2 linked regions of the Homo sapiens genome follow. The protein of the gene in region 1 interacts with the protein of each later gene in a pairwise test. Each region holds a gene or a part of one and is shown in the gene's direction. Other genes may lie near its edges.

The links.
Region 2: the proteins of CTNNAL1 (region 1) and AKAP13 interact in a two-hybrid assay, tested with the Homo sapiens proteins (one study listed by BioGRID).

Annotation. Positions count from the first base shown.
Region 1 is NC_000009.12:108,978,805-108,982,625, reverse strand, and holds part of CTNNAL1 (alpha-catulin), read left to right. Parts: intron 1-3,144; coding exon 3,145-3,345; intron 3,346-3,821. UniProt on the Homo sapiens protein: May modulate the Rho pathway signaling by providing a scaffold for the Lbc Rho guanine nucleotide exchange factor (ARHGEF1).
Region 2 is NC_000015.10:85,579,603-85,583,423, forward strand, and holds part of AKAP13 (A-kinase anchor protein 13), read left to right. Parts: coding exon 1-2,505; intron 2,506-3,821. UniProt on the Homo sapiens protein: Scaffold protein that plays an important role in assembling signaling complexes downstream of several types of G protein-coupled receptors.

The DNA of each region.
Region 1 (3,821 bases):
GTCTTTGGTTATAGTAGCTACTCTGGCTCTGTTTAGCTGTATGGTTTAGCTGTAGCCTCCTGTTCAAAAGAATGTTCCCTTCCTGTTTTTTGAGCAGTGCCATATCTTTTTGAGCAGTACCATCCATAGGATGATGGTGAGCAGCAAATCATTTCTGCTAGAATTCCTGCTTTTCTCTGTGTTAGAGGGTTGGTACTTTGAGACTATAGTAATAGTATTAGTAATAATTAAAATTTAAAAATCAACAGTAATACACACTAACAGTTATTGAGTCCTTATTCTGTGCCAGCCCTTTTCTGAGTGCTTTAAATATATGAACTTATATAATCCTCAAAGAACTATTGCTATTATTTCCATTACACTGTTGAGGAGCTTGAGAAACAGAAAGGATATTAACTTGCTGGCTACTAAGTACCAGAGTTGGGATTTGAAACTAGGCAGTGTGACTCCAGGAAGTCTGACTTCTCATCAGAAGTCATAGACATGGTGAAGATGCTTTCTGGGTAAGAGCAGTGTCTGAGTTGGGAGGGCCCTAAGAAGTCATCTAGTACAATGCCCTCCTTTAACAGATCAGAAAACTAAGGCCCTGAGAAGTTATCCAAATGCTAAAGGTTCCCACCTCTCTAACAGACAGGGCTATGATGAGAATGGCATTCTTTCCATTTTACTGCACTTTGATTTATTTTATTTATTTATTTTTGAGATGGAGTCTCACTCTTGTTTCTCGGGCTGGAGTGTGGTGGCACGATCTTGGCTCACTGCAACCTCCACCTCCTGGGTTCAAGCAATTGTCCTGCCTCAGCCTCCTGAGTAGCTTGGATTACAGGCACCCACCACCACAGCCGGCTAATTTTTGTACTTTTAATAGAGATGGGGTTTTGCCATGTTGGCCAGGCTGGTCTCGAACTCCGGACCTCAGGTGATCCGCCCACCTTGGCCTCCCAAAGTGCTGGGATTACAGGCGTGAACCACCACGCCTGGCCCTGGACTTTGATTTCTAATTGTGTGAAGGTCTAAGTAGGAACATGGGGTGAAAAGACAGTAATGGAAAGAATATCTCTTTTTGCTCTTAATAAATATTTTATTTAATCCCTACCTGCCCTTTAGGTGGATATAATTATATACTGTTTTTTTTTTTTTTGTTTTTTGTCTTTTTTTTTTGAGGAGGAGAGCTAGTAAGTGGTAGAACCCTTCTTTAGGCCCAGGATTCTCTAATCCCAAAGTCCATGACCTTTCACTTTACACCTCTGGGTTTGTTTATATGATGCCAGTCCTACCACTGAGTCTTCCTGAGGGGAAAGAAACTGTACAGACCAAACCTTCTCTTAGAAATTTTATTGCTGAAAGAGATCTTAGAGATTATTTTTCTAATCTTCCCTTTTTATAAATGCTGAAGGAGGAGATGTGTTGTCAAAGGATAATTAGGGAAACAAGTAAGTCAAGTGAGAGACATCTTTCACCACCTGCTGCTGCATTTCTAGTGCAGGTGAAGGAGGGGCAGTGCTCTGCCTGTGGCTGCTGCCGACAGCTCTGGCTGCTGCCCTCTCGCCATCAGGCATGCTGGAGGCAGAGCTGTTATAAATAGGCTCAGTCTCACTGTCCATGATTATCTCTTTGGCATCTTGCTTTTTTTCTGATGGAGAGTATAATCTATGGAGGGAAACTGGGTACTTTGCTGTATTTGGTACCATGAATATATGGACAAATGTTATGAAACCATATCAGTAAATAGCCTCTTTAAAAAAACCCCACAAAACTCCACTAAGTTGCTGTCTAAAAACATGTATATTTTCTCTCTAAAGGGAAAATAAAAAACCTTAACATAAATGGTATGAGACCAATATAACTGATTTTTATGTTTTAATTCTGTTTAAATTCTCAAATTTAATTCTCTTAAATTAATAAAATAAATTTAATTCTCTGAGAAGATCCCCATTGTAAATTCCATACCTTACTATTATCTGTATTCTTTCCTAGCTTAAATACAAGTTTCTGTCTACCTAGGATGGAGTGATCACCTGACACAACTTGGGCCAAGAGCAGGAGGGGAAGCAAGGACTCTCCTATGGCATCTTGACTTTCCCAAACTTTGATATTTTCATGGATGATGTTAAAATGGGTCACACATAAGGATTAATTAAAATAACATTTGTGAAAGGACTTTGAAGTGTTAAACAAATGTAAGGTATCCTTATTATCACATTCATTGTGACCATAATCATGATCATTACCGCTTGTTGCCTCTTGGCCCAAGTTGTCTGTGTGACATATTTCATGGACTGTAGTGTTTTACAGGGTTGAAATGGCATGATGCATCGTAGAAAGCTGAGAGAGAAAGACTGCACACATGAGCATGTGTTCATCACATAGTCAAGGAACTCCAAACAGGATGGCTGAAGTGAAAGGTTGTTAGGGGGTTCAGGGGGTGAGATAGACTGTTAGAGAAGTATATAAAGACAGGCCATAGAGGATTTTGTGCTATACTACATAGACGTTTGGGCTTGATTCTCTATAGATGGCGAGGAACTATTAGAGGGAGGTGGCAGTATCAGATGGTTTACATTTTAGATTATACAGACCCTCTGGTAGAGGATGTTTGGGTCAGTAAGGTGCTGTTGGGGACTTTAAACAAAATGTAGGGAGACCAGTTAGGTGACTAGGAGAGTCTTTGCTGAATTAACAAAGGAAAAATGGATGTCTTCCCCAGTGCTTCTCACACCCCACATCTTCCACACCATCCTTCCCCCTGGGCTCAGCACATTTCATATTTGGGTGTAACTTATCTTCCAGGACTTTGCCTAGGCATTTTCTCAGATGCAAATCTTTTACCTGGAGGCTGGTTCATTTTTCCTGCCAGTTGCTAGAGGATGATGCTCTTTCTGCCTTAGTATTCACTGATCTCATAGCAATGTCATTGTATTAATTACTCTAGGAATGGTGCTTTGCATGGATATTGAAGGCTTTTGAGCAATGTATCCTTCTGGGTTAGTGGCGAATATAGATATCATTGGTGGCTGTATTTCCCCTCAGCTTGGGAAAAGGAAATGCTAGTGTTTTCCTGGGCACTGTTAGAAATTACAGCCCATTTTGGTCAGGTGGGAATATTGACTCACATGGATGGATAGATGTCCTTTTTGTTCTCAGATGAATATTGAAGCTCTTCGGGAGAATCTTTATTTTCAGTCCAAAGAGAACCTTTCTGTGACATTGGAAGTCATCTTGGAGCGTATGGAGGACTTTACTGATTCTGCCTACACCAGCCATGAGCACAGAGAACGCATCTTGGAACTGTCAACTCAGGCGAGAATGGAACTGCAGCAGTTAATTTCTGTGTGGATTCAAGCTGTAAGAACTTTTTTTAAAATCAAAGTAAATCTTATATAATGGCTTTCCCATAAAGTTTTGCAAGATATGGAAGTTACATAATCACCAGGAGTATGAATTTGTTCCAGAATGGGACAGGATATCTCATCCCTTCTTTCCCTCCTAGTTGGCCAAAATATCCTTCCCATCTAGCACTTACAATACTTGACATTTATTTCCAGGCCTGTTGACTCTCATTCTAGCCAGTCTCAATTATATGCCTCTGTCACTATCACTAGTTCACACTGTTGTCCCTACTCTTCCACCAAACTCACCTCTGGAAAATTCCTCCCCAAAATACTTCTTCAGAGTGAAGAACAGAGGAGTAGACCCCCTCCTAGAGGTTCTTGGGACCTGAGCCTGACTGCTGGAGCCATTCACATGTACACAATTCTTACCTCTGAGGACAGCTGATTTACAGAGACAATGATTTAGAAAACTTATTGGGGTGTAGATTC
Region 2 (3,821 bases), on another chromosome or scaffold:
ATATTGGCACAGCTGGAGCCTCTGACGTGCACGTCACAAGTAAGCCTGTGGATAAAATCAGTGTTCCAAACTGTGCCCCTGCTGCCAGTTCCCTGGATGGTAACAAACCTGCTGAGTCTTCACTTGCATTTAGTAATGAAGAAACCTCCACTGAAAAAACAGCAGAAACGGAAACTTCACGAAGTCGTGAGGAGAGTGCTGATGCTCCAGTAGATCAGAATTCTGTGGTGATTCCAGCTGCTGCAAAAGACAAGATTTCAGATGGATTAGAACCTTATACTCTCTTAGCAGCAGGCATAGGTGAGGCAATGTCACCCTCAGATTTAGCCCTTCTTGGGCTGGAAGAAGATGTAATGCCACACCAGAACTCAGAAACAAATTCATCTCATGCTCAAAGCCAAAAGGGCAAATCCTCACCCATTTGTTCTACAACTGGAGACGATAAACTTTGTGCAGACTCTGCATGTCAACAGAACACAGTGACTTCTAGTGGCGATTTGGTTGCAAAACTGTGTGATAACATAGTTAGCGAGTCCGAAAGCACCACAGCAAGGCAACCCAGCTCACAAGATCCACCCGATGCCTCCCACTGTGAAGACCCACAGGCTCATACAGTCACCTCTGACCCTGTAAGGGATACCCAGGAACGTGCGGATTTTTGTCCTTTCAAAGTGGTGGATAACAAAGGCCAACGAAAAGATGTGAAACTAGATAAACCTTTAACAAATATGCTTGAGGTGGTTTCACATCCACATCCAGTTGTCCCTAAAATGGAGAAAGAACTGGTGCCAGACCAGGCAGTAATATCAGACAGTACTTTCTCTCTGGCAAACAGTCCAGGCAGTGAATCAGTAACCAAGGATGACGCACTTTCTTTTGTCCCCTCCCAGAAAGAAAAGGGAACAGCAACTCCTGAACTACATACAGCTACAGATTATAGAGATGGCCCAGATGGAAATTCGAATGAGCCTGATACGCGGCCACTAGAAGACAGGGCAGTAGGCCTGTCCACATCCTCCACTGCTGCAGAGCTTCAGCACGGGATGGGGAATACCAGTCTCACAGGACTTGGTGGAGAGCATGAGGGTCCCGCCCCTCCAGCAATCCCAGAAGCTCTGAATATCAAGGGGAACACTGACTCTTCCCTGCAAAGTGTGGGTAAGGCCACTTTGGCTTTAGATTCAGTTTTGACTGAAGAAGGAAAACTTCTGGTGGTTTCAGAAAGCTCTGCAGCTCAGGAACAAGATAAGGATAAAGCGGTGACCTGTTCCTCTATTAAGGAAAATGCTCTCTCTTCAGGAACTTTGCAGGAAGAGCAGAGAACACCACCTCCTGGACAAGATACTCAACAATTTCATGAAAAATCAATCTCAGCTGACTGTGCCAAGGACAAAGCACTTCAGCTAAGTAATTCACCGGGTGCATCCTCTGCCTTTCTTAAGGCAGAAACTGAACATAACAAGGAAGTGGCCCCACAAGTCTCACTGCTGACTCAAGGTGGGGCTGCCCAGAGCCTGGTGCCACCAGGAGCAAGTCTGGCCACAGAGTCAAGGCAGGAAGCCTTGGGGGCAGAGCACAACAGCTCCGCTCTGTTGCCATGTCTGTTGCCAGATGGGTCTGATGGGTCCGATGCTCTTAACTGCAGTCAGCCTTCTCCTCTGGATGTTGGAGTGAAGAACACTCAATCCCAGGGAAAAACTAGTGCCTGTGAGGTGAGTGGAGATGTGACGGTGGATGTTACAGGGGTTAATGCTCTACAAGGTATGGCTGAGCCCAGAAGAGAGAATATATCACACAACACCCAAGACATCCTGATTCCAAACGTCTTGTTGAGCCAAGAGAAGAATGCCGTTCTAGGTTTGCCAGTGGCTCTACAGGACAAAGCTGTGACTGACCCACAGGGAGTTGGAACCCCAGAGATGATACCTCTTGATTGGGAGAAAGGGAAGCTGGAGGGAGCAGACCACAGCTGTACCATGGGTGACGCTGAGGAAGCCCAAATAGACGATGAAGCACATCCTGTCCTACTGCAGCCTGTTGCCAAGGAGCTCCCCACAGACATGGAGCTCTCAGCCCATGATGATGGGGCCCCAGCTGGTGTGAGGGAAGTCATGCGAGCCCCGCCTTCAGGCAGGGAAAGGAGCACTCCCTCTCTACCTTGCATGGTCTCTGCCCAGGACGCACCTCTGCCTAAGGGGGCAGACTTGATAGAGGAGGCTGCCAGCCGTATAGTGGATGCTGTCATCGAACAAGTCAAGGCCGCTGGAGCACTGCTTACTGAGGGGGAGGCCTGTCACATGTCACTGTCCAGCCCTGAGTTGGGTCCTCTCACTAAAGGACTAGAGAGTGCTTTTACAGAAAAAGTGAGTACTTTCCCACCTGGGGAGAGCCTACCAATGGGCAGTACTCCTGAGGAAGCCACGGGGAGCCTTGCAGGATGTTTTGCTGGAAGGGAGGAGCCAGAGAAGATCATTTTACCTGTCCAGGGGCCTGAGCCAGCAGCAGGTAAGCAAAACATAATACAAAATTAACAGTCTGAGAAGCAGATTCCCTTAAGAGTCACTGTGGTGTCCTGGTAAAAATATAGGCATCTTTGTTGTTTTGAGGCCTTGCACTCATTGGGTAGGTAGCCAAGTTAATAGTCACCACCATCAGGAGGGGCACGTCATCTCAGGGTTGGACAGATTTTGCTTCCTGTATTGTAGACTTACTGCTTGGTTGCTTAAGCTTATAAACACTCCTGTCTCATTCTGGAGTGGTTGCAACTTTGCAAACCTAGAAAACAATGCCTAGATCACAGGTACTCTAAAGTGGTGAAAGAATTTAGCAGATGTTTTTATTCACATGGCTTAATCCTTTTCTCTAGTACCATAGAAAACAGTGCCAAAAAGCTGTGTTTTATCTACAAGCCTGAAACTCCCTTCCTCCCCTATCATCCTAGTCTGTATTCTGAGCAAATTTAGAGTCAGAGTGGTTTCATGAACAGCTGTAAGTATTGTTCTGAGCTGACTTCCCAACATCCAAAATGGTGGTATTAGGTCATTGGTGGTTTTTTGTTTGTTTGTTTTTGTTTTTTTTGGGCTAGGGGTGTTGTTGACGGGGAACTCCTTCCTTTTCCTGCTTGGGGAGTGGACCTCTAGTTCCATTGCCTGTTGCTTTTGGGCAGCAGTCTGAGAATTCAAGACCCTGCACAGTGCAGGGGATAGGATGCAGGATTTCCGCCCAAGCCCAGTCTGCTGAGCTGCTGTCACAGGGCAGACCTTGTGTCTGCTTTATCTTGGTGAAGCAGCTGCACTGAGCAGATTGCTCACACAGCAGCCTGTTCCATCTGTGGGTAACCATGTTCCGAGGCAGCAAAGAGAAACCGCTATTGCTCCGTGGAAATAAACTATCTGAATAAAACTTCTTAACGGGGGTTGAGGCTGAAGCTGAAACGGGAGTCGGACACGATCTTGGCTCCTGAAGTCTTTAAAGGTCAGTTTGATGCACACTTCTATACCACCACCTGTTACCAGCTGTAGACAGAAGACCTATCTCCATGCTTGCCCCTAGGCTTTTGTAGGTAAGAAGCAGCCTGTTTTGTCTTTATTGTTTATTTTTGCTGTTCTTTTCAATTTTTGAAAATCCCTTTACACATATGTATTAAGAATGTGGGGGAGGGTTATGGAGAGAAATGAATCAATGGAGCAAAAGAAGTTGCTTTGGAAGAAGCGCAATTTAAATACAGTGGTTATTTTCCCTGGTAAAGGGCTTTTAGCCGTTTATAATCTTTTTCCTCCCCAGTTGAGGGATTTAAGGAATCCGAGGTAGAATTTTTGATG